Homo sapiens: one gene and its partner. The protein of the gene in region 1 interacts with the protein of each later gene in a pairwise test. Each region holds a gene or a part of one and is shown on either strand. Other genes may lie near its edges.

Evidence for each region. The genes of interacting proteins can lie anywhere in the genome.
Region 2: the proteins of GTF2A1 (region 1) and NFYA interact in binary tests that used the Homo sapiens proteins (3 or more experiments, as listed by UniProt).

What each region holds. Positions count from the first base shown.
Region 1 is NC_000014.9:81,189,719-81,197,209, forward strand, and holds part of GTF2A1 (transcription initiation factor IIA subunit 1), read right to left. Parts: intron 6,524-7,491; coding exon 6,390-6,523; intron 3,122-6,389; coding exon 2,801-3,121; intron 1-2,800. UniProt on the Homo sapiens protein: TFIIA is a component of the transcription machinery of RNA polymerase II and plays an important role in transcriptional activation. TFIIA in a complex with TBP mediates transcriptional activity.
Region 2 is NC_000006.12:41,089,735-41,097,225, reverse strand, and holds part of NFYA (nuclear transcription factor Y subunit alpha), read right to left. Parts: intron 7,023-7,491; coding exon 6,917-7,022; intron 5,699-6,916; coding exon 5,532-5,698; intron 4,315-5,531; coding exon 4,141-4,314; intron 2,831-4,140; coding exon 2,729-2,830; intron 1-2,728. UniProt on the Homo sapiens protein: Component of the sequence-specific heterotrimeric transcription factor (NF-Y) which specifically recognizes a 5'-CCAAT-3' box motif found in the promoters of its target genes.

The DNA of each region.
Region 1 (7,491 bases):
AGCATCTGAGCAAACCTACTGACAATATAAATCTAACAGACACATACAAATACCAAACAAGTGCAGAAAACACATTCTTTTCAAAGCATATACAAAAACTGACCAAATCAAGCAAGTCTCAAGCAATTTCAAAAGATTCACACATCACACAGATCATATTCTCTACAAACAAAACAGTTAAGTCAGAAAAGAATAGAATGGGAAAAACACACTAGAGAGAATAAAGCTAAAAGTTTACTCTTTGAAAACATTAATAAAATCAACACATCCCTGGTAAGACTGAACAGGGAAAAAAAAAGATGGCACAATAATTATATTAGGAATGAAGATGACAAAGGATTCTGGCATCAAAAAGACAATATCATGATTAACTTCATGTTAATCAACTTGAAAATTTAGATAAATATATAGAGAGTCCTAGAAAAATATAACTTATCAAAACGGTCTCAAACAGAAACAAAATACTTGAAGGGCATGAGATTACTAGACCCAGGTATCTGTAGTGTCATGTTTTAACAAATATCAACAGAAGAATTAAATACAATCTTTGAAAAAAAAAAAAGAGTTCAAAATACAGGAAACATGTCCCCAAATTCATTTAACAAAGCTACCATAACTGAAAACCTTGTAAGAAGAGTATGAGAACAGAAAATCACACAGTATCTATCAATCATAAATATCTACAAAAAAGTCCTCAACAAAATGAATTCAGCAATTTATAAAAAGAGAAATATAAAATGATCAAGTTGTGCTATCCCAGGAGTACAAGATTGGTTTACAAATAGAAAATCAATTAATGAAATCCATTATAAATAACATTACGTGAGAAATTATACAAATCATTGCAGAAAAGGTGTTTAATTAAATGCAACATTCACTTACAGTTTAAAAAACAAAGCAATGCAAAGAAGGGAATTTACTTAACCTGATGAAGATATCCATTAAAAAAAAAGAAAACCCACAACAAACATTAAACTTAACAGTGAAGCATGGAAAAGATTACTTTTCAGTTTAAGAAGAAGAGAAGAGTGCCTGCTATCACCACTTCTAATCAATACTGTTCCCGAAGGCTTAGCCAATGAGCCACAAAAAACTGCCGTTCTTCATATAAGATGTGAAAGTCTACACAGAAGATACAAAAGAATCTACAGATACATTATGAGGACTAACAAAAGACATTAGGACGGTGGCTGGTTCAAGGATGAATATTAAAAGCGCTACATATTTCCATCCTACCAATAAACTGGAAAAGGTAATAAAAACATGTTACTTCAAGAAGCACTGAAACTATGAAGAATTTAGGGGGAGGAAACGGGCAAGAGACCTCAATAAGCACTTCTATACAAAACACAAATATCAAATAAATATACAAAAAGAGGCTAAAACTCCTAAGTGAGGAAATGCAAACTAAAACCAAAATGAAATAATACTATTTTCTACCTACCAGACCAGCAAAAATCAGGAAGCCTGACACTATCAGGTATTGATAAGGGGGTATGGACATCTGCACAATTATGTATTGAATGGCAGAAGTGATTTGGCATTTTATTATAAAGTTGCAGATGTGCATGACTTAGGAGCCAGAAGTTCAATGTTCGGTATAAAATTTAGAGAACCTCTTGCATTTGTGTCCCCAGAAGACATACACTACAATATTTTATAACTGTTTGTAACAGTAAACAACAAGAAACAATCCTTATGTCCACTGGATTAGAAAAATTGACAAATAAAATTATGGTATATTCAGCAATGAAAATAATTATAGCTATATGCAACAACTTGGATAAACCTCAGGAATATCATTTTAAGGGGAAAAAACCAACTTGCAGAAGAATACGTAATTACTTCATTTACGTTGTAAACATGCAAAACTAAACAATATGCTATTTAGGAATATAAATATATATGGTAAAATATAAAAGCAATTAATAATCAACACAAATGTATGAGCAAAGGTACTTTGATGGCCTAGGAATGATGGGATTAGGGAGAGGCATCTAAGGCACTTTAAATAATGGAATTTTATTTTAACTAGATGGTGGGCACCAGGATGATTTTTATCTTGAAACATTTCTATTCATTTGTGTCTATTCAATATTCAATAATAAACTATGTTTTCTTCAGAAAAAAAATTACTTAGATAATTTAGAAGAACTTTGTACTAAGAAACAAAAAGACTGCATTTTAGGCTAACGAAGGCAATTAACAGTGAAAATTGTGGTGGGACAAATAGTTTTTGGAGCCTAGTAACTAAGCTGAAATAGTGAGGAAAACAAAGGCATATTTATATGCTTCTAGAAGAACACAGACATTAAGGGTACATAGGTTTTTAAGGAAGTGGTATAGAACATGGACCAAAAGGTTTTAAATATTTAATAAATTTGTGACATTTGGTTCTTGAGTTTGCTCTCTCCCCAAATGTTGCCACGCTTTTTAAATTACTGAAGCAAAAGATTAACCACATCTATTTATCTACCAATGTCTTATGTTTAAGCCACATTATAAATGCGTAAGCCAGAGTTAGAATTACCTGTACTCTTTACTACACATATTAATACAATTTAATTTGTTATACATTTTTTATTACCAGCTATATGAAAGTTATATTTTATGAAGATAAATATAGCCAGAATATAAAAACCTTACTAAAGTTAAAACAATCTAACTTTATCTTTAAAATCTTATGTTGTACAGCACCTAACAGTCTCTGAAAAAAACAGGATATAATTTATCAGTGTTGTACCAACTAAAAAAGGAAATAATCAAGTAGATTATTTTAAGTATGTTACTAGAAACTTACTTCTTCCACCTGCCCATCTTCAGCTCCATCTTTCTCTTTGTCTTCCTCCTCATCATCATCATAGTCTTCTTCTTCATCTTCATCTTCTTCAGATGATGTATCCCCAGTTCCATCAACTTGTAAGACCAATGGAGCTTGTGTTTGAGCAGGCTGGGCCTGCGGTTGCTGCTGGCCAGTTGCAGTTATCTGTGCTTGGGCTGGTGTAGGTGCTGCCACTGTCGTAGGTATAACTTGAGTCTTATTTCCTGTAAATAAGATTTGCTGAGGCTGGATGATGACACCTGTCTGTGGTGAAATCCCTCCAGGAAGAGGAGCCAGCACCTAAAGCAAAAGAAAACCACATAACAGTAACTAGTTAAGAGGATCAAGTATGGTACACAGAAATAGAAACAAATGCTTAAGATTCACCAGAATGGCCATATTTCATACACAGTTAAAAACTACCAAAGTACAAAAGCAATTAGTTTAACTAGTGTAGTGACCCATTAAATTTCTATTTTATCAAATTTCTAGAAAATAAGGATTTTCTAAAGATAACTGCTTCATTTATTGAGCACATACTATGTATATGCCAGCTACCAGGACAAAAGTTATACACTGCCTTCACATGAAGAACACTGGACTGAGAATCTGAAAACCTGGGTCTACCTTTTTTTTTTTTTTTTATAGATGGAGTCTCGTTCTGTCACCCAGGCTGGAGTGCAATGGTGTGATCTCGGCTCACTGCAACCCCTGCCTCCTGGGTTCAAGCAATTCTCCCACCTCAGCCTCCTGAGTAGCTGGGACTACAGGTGCGCGCCACCATGCCCGGCTAATTTTGTTATTTTTAGCAGAGACGGGGTTTTGCCATGTTGGTCAGGCTGGTCTCGAACTCACGACCTCATGATCCGCCCGCCTCCCAAAGTGCTGGGATTACAGGCGTGAGCCACAACGCCTGGCCAACCTGGGTCTACTTTTGTCTAAAGTCAGACATAAATACAGCAGACGCAAGTCATTTAACTCCTCTTGGCCTCTGTCGTTTCACTGTCAAACTAGGCTTAATGGTTCTCAATCCTGGCTGCAAATATGAACCACCTGGCAACTTAAAAAGTACTGATACCTTGGCCATACCCCTAATATTCTGACTCAGTGTGAGATAAAAGCTAATTATTTTTCTAAAAACCACCAGATCAGATTTCTGAAGTTCCTTTCCAGGTTCTGCATCTAGGATTCTAAAGTAAGCCACAACTTGAAAAAATATATACTAACAAATATTAACTATATGTATTATAATAAAGGAGGAGGACTAGATGCTTGTTACTTGCCATTAGGTTCAAGGAATGCAAAAATAAGACACAGTATTTCCTTTAAAATGCTTACACGTGGTGTAACAACACAAAAGACAAAAAAATGGTATAATAGACAAAGCACTAACAACTCAAAAACACAGCAGATGTAGTACAAATATGACACAGTGTTATGGGAACACAAGAGAGTGTACCAAATTCAACTTAGGGGACAAAGCATGATCAAATATTACTTATATTATTAGTAAGTAGTTTCTGTTTGTGCTTAAAGGCAGCGGTCCCCAACCCCTGTTAGAAACTGGGCTGCACAGCAGGAGGTGAGTGGTGGATGAGCCAGCATCACCACCTGAACTCTGCTTCCTGTCAGATCAGCAGCAGCATGAGATTCTCATAGGAGCAGGAACCCTACTGTGAACTGCACATGCAAGGATGGAGGTTGTGCACTCCTTATGCCTGATGACCTGAATTAAAAGTTTCACCCCGAAACCATCCCTGCTGCCCAGTACATGGAAAAATTGTCTTCTGCAAAAACCAGTCCCTGGTGTCAAAAAGCTAAGAGACTGCTGCTTTAAGGAGATTAGCCAGGTTTTTCTATTTGTTTGGGGGAAGTGCAGGGAGTTGCCAGACGGCATTCTTAAGAGAAGTGTAACATCAAGTGAAACCCAGAAGTGACAGCAGTACATAATTTTGGAAAGATGTAAATAAACTGGATTAATAGTACTGCTCTGATCTTGTCTCTATCATAATACTATTTTACTGACATTTAAAAAAGAGACAGACACATAAACATATAAAGTACATAAGTTCCTCAAGAAAATAACCATTCCTCTTTCATTTTAGTGCCACAGCACAAGAATATAACACAAGTAGATCCAAGTGTTTATTTTGATGTAAATGCAGCTAAAGAAAATAACTGGGAGCATGGCAAGAAATAAACCTGGAGAGTTCAAAGAAACAAGATCCACAAAAAGATTTTATAAACCATGTTGAGTTGTTTAGGCTCTTCTCAGTAGGCAATGAAAAGCTGTTAAAAGTTTTAGGATTTTTAGAAAGATAGGCCAGGCACAGTGGCTCACGCCCATAATCCCAGCACTTTGGGAGGCAAAAGCGGGCAGATCACCTGAAGTCAGGAGTTCAAGTCCAACCTAGACATGGTGAAACTCTGTCTCTATTAAAAATACAAAAATTAGCTGGGCACAGTGGTGCGTGCCACTAATCCCAGCTACTCAGGAGGCTGAGGCAGGAGAATCACTTGAACCCAGGAGGCGGGAGTTGCAGTGAGCTGAGATTGCGCCATTGCACTCCACCCTAGGTGACAGAGACTCTGTCTCAAAAAAAAAAAAAAAAAAAGATGACTATAAATCAGCCAGGTTAGGAGGGCAAAAGATGAGAGGCAGAGAAACCATTAAGAAGACAATGCAGCATTTTAGTGACAAATCATGGACAGTATGAACTAAGGAAATGAAAAAAGAGGCTGAGAAAAAAACAGTGTCAAACATATTAAGGGACTGCAACCATGGCAAAACTGCAGTTAAAGAAAAAAAAAAGGCCGGGCGCAGTGGCTCACACCTGTAATCCCAGCACTTTGGGAGGCCGAGGCGGGTGGATCACAAGGTAAGGAGATAGAAACCATCCTAGCTAACACGGTGAAACCCCATCTCTACTAAAAATACAAAAGTTAGCCAAGTGTGGTGGTGGGCGCCTGTAGTCCCAGCTACTTGGGAGGCTGAGGCAGGAGAATGGCATGAACCCAGCAAGCAGAGGTTGCAGTGAGCTGAGATCGCGCCACTGCACTCCAGCCTGGGTGAAAGAGCAAGACTCTGTCTCGAAAAAAAAAAAAAAAAGAAAAGAAAAACTATTAACAAGAATTGGTAGGGCTTGATACCTTGGGTATTAGAGGTAAGGAAAAGGGAGGATTCTACACACCCACTTCCAGTAAGCATCATAAAACTAGAGTCATGTCTGTGTCATTCACTCCTAAATCCCCTGACCCTTGTGAATACCCCGAGACTCAGTAACTGCTTATTGAATAAAGGCTGAATGACCAGCTTAGGAAGCTGGAAGGAGAGTGCTGCCACCTTCGAGGGGATGATGAAGGATGGGCAGAGACAACAGTAATTGTTTAATACATGTTTAATACATGCTGAATCTAAGTTAAGCTGTATACAGGAGAAATTTGAAACAACTGGGTCTGTAGCACTGAAAAAGAGTCTTTTGTGCATATAAGGAGAGGGAAACTACCCAGGGAATACATACAGAATAAAACAGAACCCCATACTGATCATAATAGAAGATTATTTTACCTGCTGTATAACAGGAGCTTGTACTCCACCAGGCTGCATTTGTGGTATAACCTGTTGTTGTAGAACCACTGACTGCTGAGGCTGAAAGATATATTGGGCACCATTGGCTGCTCTGACCACCTGAAGAAGCTGGCCTAAAGCAAAAAGCATGCATTCCGAGTTATCATTTTAGCAGTGACCATCTCAAAAGAAATGAATTCATATTTAATTTCATACCACCAAAGGCACAAGAAATTATCAAGAAAACTAACAATTTTATTAAAGGTTGTCATTCATACACAGTATGCATAATCCTCCCCTTCTCTGACTTCTCGCCATGTTCAAATACATTCCTTAAAATGTTTTATTTTTCATATTTACATCCTCATTCAGCTATTTCCAACAAGGTTTTAACAACAGATTATGAGACTTGACTAAAGCTTACATTATCTTTGCTAACCTTAGGAGTGAAGAAAGAGCAGTAAGATCAGACACTTCGGGAGCTGTTCATTTTTAAAGCTTTAAAGGAACAAAAGCTTAATAGCTCATTTAATATCTTGAACCAAACAAAGCACCAAAGAACTTTGCTTCAAAATTGGTAAAAGCAATAAAAGTTCACAGAACCAGTTATCATCATTGTCATACAATTCACACAGAATCAAATTCCCCCAATATGTTCCTTTAGACAACCCAGAATCTTGAATTGATTAAAAAGCAAATTACATCTTATTAAAATATGTAGCAAGACAAGCCCCTAATTTCACAAATTTACAAATTAACAAAAATAACATACACAGAATAGAAAATAAATAATAACTATATAATCAAGATTATAGGGAACACTTAAAATCCATGTAAATAAATTTTTCAAGCACCAATATGCCAAAACACATGAGCTAGACATTGGTCTTTTGTCAATGAAGAGATACTATGTATAATAATAGCATACAATAAATTTGCTCTTAATATGCTCTAGGAATTACTTTGATATCACAAGTTCAAAGAAGTTTAATACTCACTTGGCATGTTAAATGTGTTCAGTAAAAAACTAAGTAAGCATTTTTATATAATCATACTTCAATAATAGGGTTATCATGCACAGATCAAAGGTTCAAGTACAATT
Region 2 (7,491 bases), on another chromosome or scaffold:
AAGTCTGCATACATGGCTTAAAGTGTAGCCCCATTAGGAAAGAAGAGACAATAAACCTTATTCTTAAAATAATTTAAAGTCTGGCCTGCACTCCATGGTGAAACACTGCAGGGCTGTTAGTGTATCTCTTTCCTAAGAACCTTGTGTTGTTCTCTATACTTAAGGGTTAAGAGTATTCAGATTCAGGTGTCTAAGGAAAAGACCCAGAGAAACCATGTCATGCTGTATTTTTGTCACTGTTTTTTGATCATCATTTAAATACTGAGTACTTAGCAGGGCTAGAAAGAATCATTAGAATCTATACACTTTAATGTACTCGTTTTACAGATAAATCTGAAGGCCAGATGGGTAAAGTGATTTGCGTGGACTAGGGTCAGGGTCAGAAAGTTAGGAGTCCAGCAAGGGCTAACTCCCAAATCTCCTGACTCCCATTTCATCTTCTTTCCACTAAACTCTATATGCTGTTTCTCACTTAAGACCTACCGTGTTAACACAAGGATAAATCCTTGGAAGCTTTTTGCAACACTCCGCAAGAACCACCTTTAGTTCCCCCATACCAAGGCTCTGAAGCCTTGGTAGGCAGGATCTGAGAAAAAGCTGAAAGCCTTCTGGAGATGGAAGACTGGAACTGGGTCTTGAACAATGAGCAAAAACAACTAGCATTTACTGAACTCACCATGCACTAGGTATGGTGCTACACAGATGCCTAATGTGGATTACTGAATGAAATCCCTACAACATTGCTGTGAAGTATCAACAGTATTCCACTTTACAGATAAAAATAAAAGAGGCTGAATTGACCAAGATCATATTGTTAGCACACAGAATGAGGAGAGTTCCTGGCACAATGCCCTCCTGCCACAATAGCTGTCAGGCCCACATTCATACACCGTTATGAATGAATAGCAATGAGAAAGGAGGGGCTCTCACACTACAGGTGAGGATTAATAGCACTGAAAGAGTTGTTAGTGTTCATGTGTGGGGACACTGAGGAAACCTAGTTTGATTGTTGAGGGGGTGATAAGGCAAAGTTGCTTAGATGTTATACAGAAATAGTTTGAGATTTGATGCAGTTAAGAAATGAGAACTATTAATAGCATGCATCCTTGACCTGGGGACTGGCAGGTTAAAAAAAACACTTTAACCATGTACTGTATAAGTACTATATAAGGCCAATTAGAGGAGACTGGAGATTAATTTGATGGATATTGCAATAGTGCAAGTGGAATGTGATGTTAATATAGAATGGAGTATCAGCAAATGGGAGGAATCTATTAATTCAAGAAACACTGATTGCTTGGTTCAGAACTGGATACTAAACCCAACAAATACATCTAAGTCAGTACTTAAATACAACTTACTTAAATAGAATTAAGTCCAATAAATATAACAGAGAACGAAACAATCCTCTACCCTCTATACAACTTACAGTCTAGTGAAGGAAACAATCTTGAAAAATTCAACAACTTAAATATTATTACACTGTAAAGAAAAGGGCCAAGTGCAATGGTGTGCGCCTGTAATCCTAGCACTTTGGGAGGCCAAGGCGAGAGGATCGCTTGAGCCTAGGAGTTTGAGACCTGCCTGGGCAACAAAGTGAGACTCCATTTCTACAAAAAATTTAAAAATTAGCTGGGCATGGTGGTGCGTGGCTATAGTCCCAGCTACTCGGGAGCCTAAAGTGGGAGGATCACTTGAGCTGGGAGGTCAAGACTAAAGTGAGCCATAATCACACCACTGCCTCCAAAAAAAGAAAAGATGTTGTAAGAACATACTGAGAGAGAAGAGATCTATTCTAGATAGGGTATTTAATTAAACCCAGACCTAACAGATAGGGAGATAGACATGCATGAAAAAGATAAAGGGCATACAGACTGAAAATTCTAAGGACAAAGACCCGTGGCAGGAAGTAGACCAATGAACAGTAAACAGCAGCATAGAGACCAAGAAGTAGAAATGCAGTTAGAGGTAGACAGGAGCTGGAGCATGTAAGGCTTTGCTGGGCATAGTAGTAAGCACTTTGGATGTCAGTCTAAGTGCAAATGGGAAAGGGTAGGGGTTGAAGGAGCTTGAGCAGAACAGGGACTTGATAGGATAAACATTTTAAAAAGATCACACTAGGATGTGGAGAGTAGGCTAGAGGGGAACAAAAGTGGAAGAAGGGAAACCAAATTAAGCAGCTATTTTATAAATCTAAGCCAAAGAAGAGAGGATTAGACCAGGCTCACATCAGTTAGAAGGGAAAAAAGTAAACATTCAAATTATATTTGTGATGGGGTAATAAAACCTGTTCAATAAAAATAAAACTTGTTCCTTGAAAATTAAGAAAAGTGTGATTTTCAAGAAAGAATGAATAGTAATAAGTGACAAAGACGAAGAGCATCTCAACCCTCCAAGTAGCTGGGACTACAGGCATGCATCACCAGGCCTGGCTAGTTTTTGTATTTTTTTGTAGAGATGGAGTTTTGCCATGTTGCCCAGGCTGGTCTTGAAATCCTGGGCTTCCCACCTCAGCCTCCCAAAGTGTTGGGATTACAGGCATGAGCCACCAAGTCTGGCCTAGTGGTTTTAAGATAAAAGATAATCTAAAGAGACATAAGATTGCATCCAGTTTAGAGAATGTGAGTAGTCCCAGAGTAGGAAAATAGCAAGAGGACACTGCTGAAGGCTTCAACTCAAGTCAATACAAGGTAATAAAGAGAAGAATAAAATGTATATGTCTTCCTACCTGCATATGGGGACTATCCTTTTCCTTTGGAGAGAAAAATCGTCCACCTTCACCACGCTTCCGTGCCATGGCATGACGGTGCCGAGACTCATGCAGGTATTTCTAAAACGAGAAATAAAACCATTTAACTATTAATACTATCCAGAACCAGCACAGTTATCTAGTGCACAAATTCCATTCTCCAAAGTTTAAGACAGCTGGGATCAAAGTCACAAGGGACAATTATGACTTAGAATGACGATGGAAGCTTTGGAGAAAACACCTAGTAAGTAATATAGCTAACCATATATAACTACTGTAAGACTGTGAATGCTTATAGTATGAATTTTTTTTAAAAAAAATAACAGACTACCACCTACACTTCACAATATATACACTTTCCTCTGCTTTAATAACAGGCCAAATTTCGTTTGAGCAAATGAGTGTTCAGTAAAAAGACTTTCCTAGCATTAAAGTTTATTATTATTATTTTCTAGAAACAGGGTTTCACTCTGACACCCTTGCTGTTGGACTGCAGTGGCATGATCATGAATCACTGCAGCCTTGAATTCCTCGGCTCATGTGATCCTCCTGCCTCTGCCTTCCAAGTAGGACTACAGGCATTTGCCACCACACCAGGCTGGACTTTCCTAGCCTTATCTGCATGTTAGGTGTGATCAGGTAACTAAATTCCGGCTAGTGGAAGGTACACAACTTCTTCAAAGTTTCCTTGAAAGAAAGGGTACCTGGCCGGGTATGGTGGCTCACGCCTATAATCCCGGCACTTTGGGAGGCCCAGGCAGGTGGATCACCTGAGGTCAGGAGTTCGAGACCAGCCTGGCCAACATGGTGAAACCCCGTCTCTACTAAAAACACAAAAATAAGCTGGGCGTGGTGGCGCACACCTGTAATCCCAGCTACTCAGGAGGCTGAGGCAGGAGAATCACTTGAACATGGAAGGTGCAGGTTGCAGTGAGCTGAGATTGTGCCACTGCACTCCGGCCTGGATGACAGAGCAAGACTGAGTCTCAGGAAAAAAAAAAAAAAGAAAGGGTACCTTTCTTGTTCCCTTTCTTCCTAGGCTGGAGCCTAAGCAGGAATCTTGGACCATGAACAGCACACTAGCAATATTAAAGCAGTGAAACAGGTCTTGAGAACTGTGAAAATGTGCTACCAGTCCAGGATAATTTATCTCTGGACTACTTTTATGTATGAAAAGGAATAACATCTTATTTAAGCCACTGTTTGTTTTCGTTATTATAACTGCAGCTGCATATTAGTAATAACAAATGCTAACTCTTACAAAAGAGACAACAAGTATCTAACGTCAATTGTTTGGAAGGTACGTGAGAAAACAAGCCATATAAAAGATAATTTCAAAAGTAGAACCCTGCTATTCTCCTTTCCTATATCCTTCCCAATGTTATACATACCCTTCTCTCCTTTGGAATTTTCCCTTCTGCCTCTAGTTTAGCTCGGGCTTGCCTCCTCTTAAGAATACGGTGGTATTGTTTGGCATTCACGTAGAGAGGCTCTTCTTCAAGCATCTCTGCTCCAGGTAGAGGGATTCTTTGGATAGCAGGCACAGAGCCAGCCCCAGGAACCATCTGTGTGAACAGGAAACCAGAGCTTATTGGTGGCATGAAGTATGGACATAGAAACAGTTTCTTGGTTCCTCTTCATCCATTTTTTTTGTAAATGCCACAAAAAGTAATTTTTATAGGGTACTTGGGTAAATGCGGATCCCTGGAGAAATTTATACTAAAGATCTGCACTTTAAACAAACACCCCAGATGACTGTGTCATAGGAGATTCAGGTGCCACTCTGAGAAACTATATAACCATGCCCTAATTCATGTCCACCCATGGCTCTAGATATTTCTGCTGCCATCTAATGGTCAGGAACAGTAGTCATAAGACAAAAAAACAGCACAAAAATAGATAGACCAAGTGCTACTAAATGCCTATATTTATAAAAATAATAGTTAACTTATAATTCAATCCTAATTTTTCTTAAAAAACACCAAAACACTGTACTAAATGTAGGTAAAAACAAGTAACAGAGTCCTGTACCCCACAGCTCTTTCCCAAATACAACCGCTTTGAATAACTGTATTGAATCTTTTATAAAAATTATTTATTTTTCATTCAATTCGTAGAAACGAGGTCTCTCTACATTGCCCAGGCTGAGCTCAAACTCCTGGACTTAAGCCATCCTCCTGGATTAGCCTCCCAAGTAGCTAGGACTACAGGTGCATGCCACTGAGCCAGGGTTGGTTCTGTTTCTTTTCATAGCTTCCTCCACCTCTGTGCAGACTTCTGTTACTCATTCTTAATTTATGCATTTTAACATCCTATTTTGACATATGAGGATTTAGCTTTCAGTTACACCACCCAAATCTTCCTATCTTCCCAATACATTTACATGACACTTTTTTTTTGGTTTCTCTATCAATTACAATCTTTCTAATTTTTAGCTTATTTCTTATTTTGTCCATCATGGGCAATACTACTTTCCACTTCTCAAAGATTAGTATATAATTCCCTTCGTTATTTGAATTCTGAAAAGAATTCCATAAAATCACTATTTATCCATTGCTTTATCTCCAGCATCTAGAATAGTCCCTGGTGAATAGTCCCTGGCACATAGTAGGTGCTCAGAATGAATTATGGTTTGTCATAATGTTATTGTCAAAGTAGATTACCGACAGTGCCTTAAGGATCGATCTCAATCCCAAGAGGTCAACATAATAAATTTTAGGAGGCATCAAGTTGCATGTTCAAGAAAATTTCAAAGACAAAGCTGAAAAATACATTTTCTTACCATGACCATCCCTCCTGAATTGACCACATTGCCTGCCACTGGTAGTGTCACAGTGACAGTCCCTTGCCCACTGCTGGTTGTGTTGGTATTGGCTCCTGTTTGAACAATCTGTGCTCCTGCCAAACTGGCTGCTGGGATAGTGATCATGCCTGAAACAGGGACTGTAACTTTAAGAAAACAAAACATAAAACAAACAAAAAACAGGCACACAGAACAGAAAGAAGGGAACATAGTTAGTCCCTCTTCTATCTGGTATACACTCACCGATCCTGGCAAAACACACTGAAAAACACAAGGGGAGAAAAAGTACTCTCCCACTGTGGTGTGCTATATATAATCTAAGTAATCACAATCTTTGAAATTCTATTAACTGTCTAGGTCCCAGTTTTGAGTAACTCTATCCTTAGCAGTTTTCAAAAGGTGAAAAGGTTTGGAGGCCTCCTCTTCTACAGGTCAGTCTGACTACAGCTATACCTACTGCTCTTGTACATAATGAGCAATCTGCTTCAGGACAGAGATTTTAAAACTTATACTTTGTTTATCTCAAACTGACAATGAGTCAGTTGTAGTATTAAAACTTAAAATTAAACCAAGCATTCCAAGTCCCCAGACTATCAATAGCAGCACTTGAGGATTTGTTCACCATTCTGTTTGAGCTCTTGCCTGGGCTCAATCCAGTTCAGGGCCTCCCTGGAGTAATACAAGAGCACACAGTTAGTGCACTCTCTGGATCCTGTATATTGCAAATTTGCAATCACAAAGTCATGGAATCTAACAAAGATGTCCTTTTTTGATTTAACTATTTGACTAACAGGTGCTTCCAAAAGCCTTCAAGTTCAGTTTCTGCACTCCTCCTCCCAGACCAAACATCTATTATTTATGTTATCTATTCCTAGAACATACTTCCATGAGGGCCCTGCATTGTATTTATTTGTTCACGTCTTTCTTACTAGACTAGAGGCTCTTTGAGGACCCTTCTTAGTAAAAGTGCTGTATACATAATAGTCATTTAAAGTAATGGAATGACCCAGAAAAAAACATAAGCAGCAATAGCACTCTAAAGCCAACTTGATTTTTGATCTATTTCTCTCTTTACCAATGAACTCCCTATTTCTATTCTTCTGTTTAGAAACACTTCTTCCCTAAAAGCTTACACAATCCCTAGATTAGCAACCACTATAGAAACTGCTACACATGGAATCACTGTTGGTCACAGATGGTGACAAGAAACCAACAATCAATGGAGAGCTAGAGGAAATCTTTTTTTTTTTTGTCCAAAAAATATGTAGTGTCAAGTTCACCACTCAAATTCTAAAGATGTCAGTTGTCTAAGGGACAAAAAAGTTGCCCCAAAAAGTCCTAGGGAAGCTTATGGGTACACTTACCTTGCTGGAGAATGGTGCCATCTGCATTAACTGGTTGATAGACGATGGTCTGCCCTTCAGCAGTCTGTGCCACTTGCTGTCCCTGGACAGCAATCTGCTGCTGTGTCTGGAGGAAATAAGTAATGACACAATTCAACAGATCCCAAAGATACTAACAAAGAACGATGTAGTCCTTAAAAAAAAAAATTATTTTTTTGAGACAGAGTCTCACTCTGTCGCCAGGCTGGAGTGCAGTGCAGTGGCGCAATCTCAGCTCACTGCAACCTCCGCCTCCTGGGTTCAAGCGATTCTCTGCCTCAGCCTCCCGAGTAGCTGGGATTACAGGCATGCGCCACCATGCCCACCTAATTTTTGTATTTTGACGGGGCTTCACCATGTTGGCCAGGATGTTCTTGATCTCTTGACCTTGTGATCAGCTTGCCTCGGCCTCTCAAAGTGCTGGGATTACAGGCATGAGCCACCGCGCCCGGCCAAAAATATATTTTTTTATGGTTTTCATCCCCTTTTCTACTATACATGCTATACATGAAATATCTGACTCAGTTATCTGACTCTTCCAAATCAGTTTTGCTCCT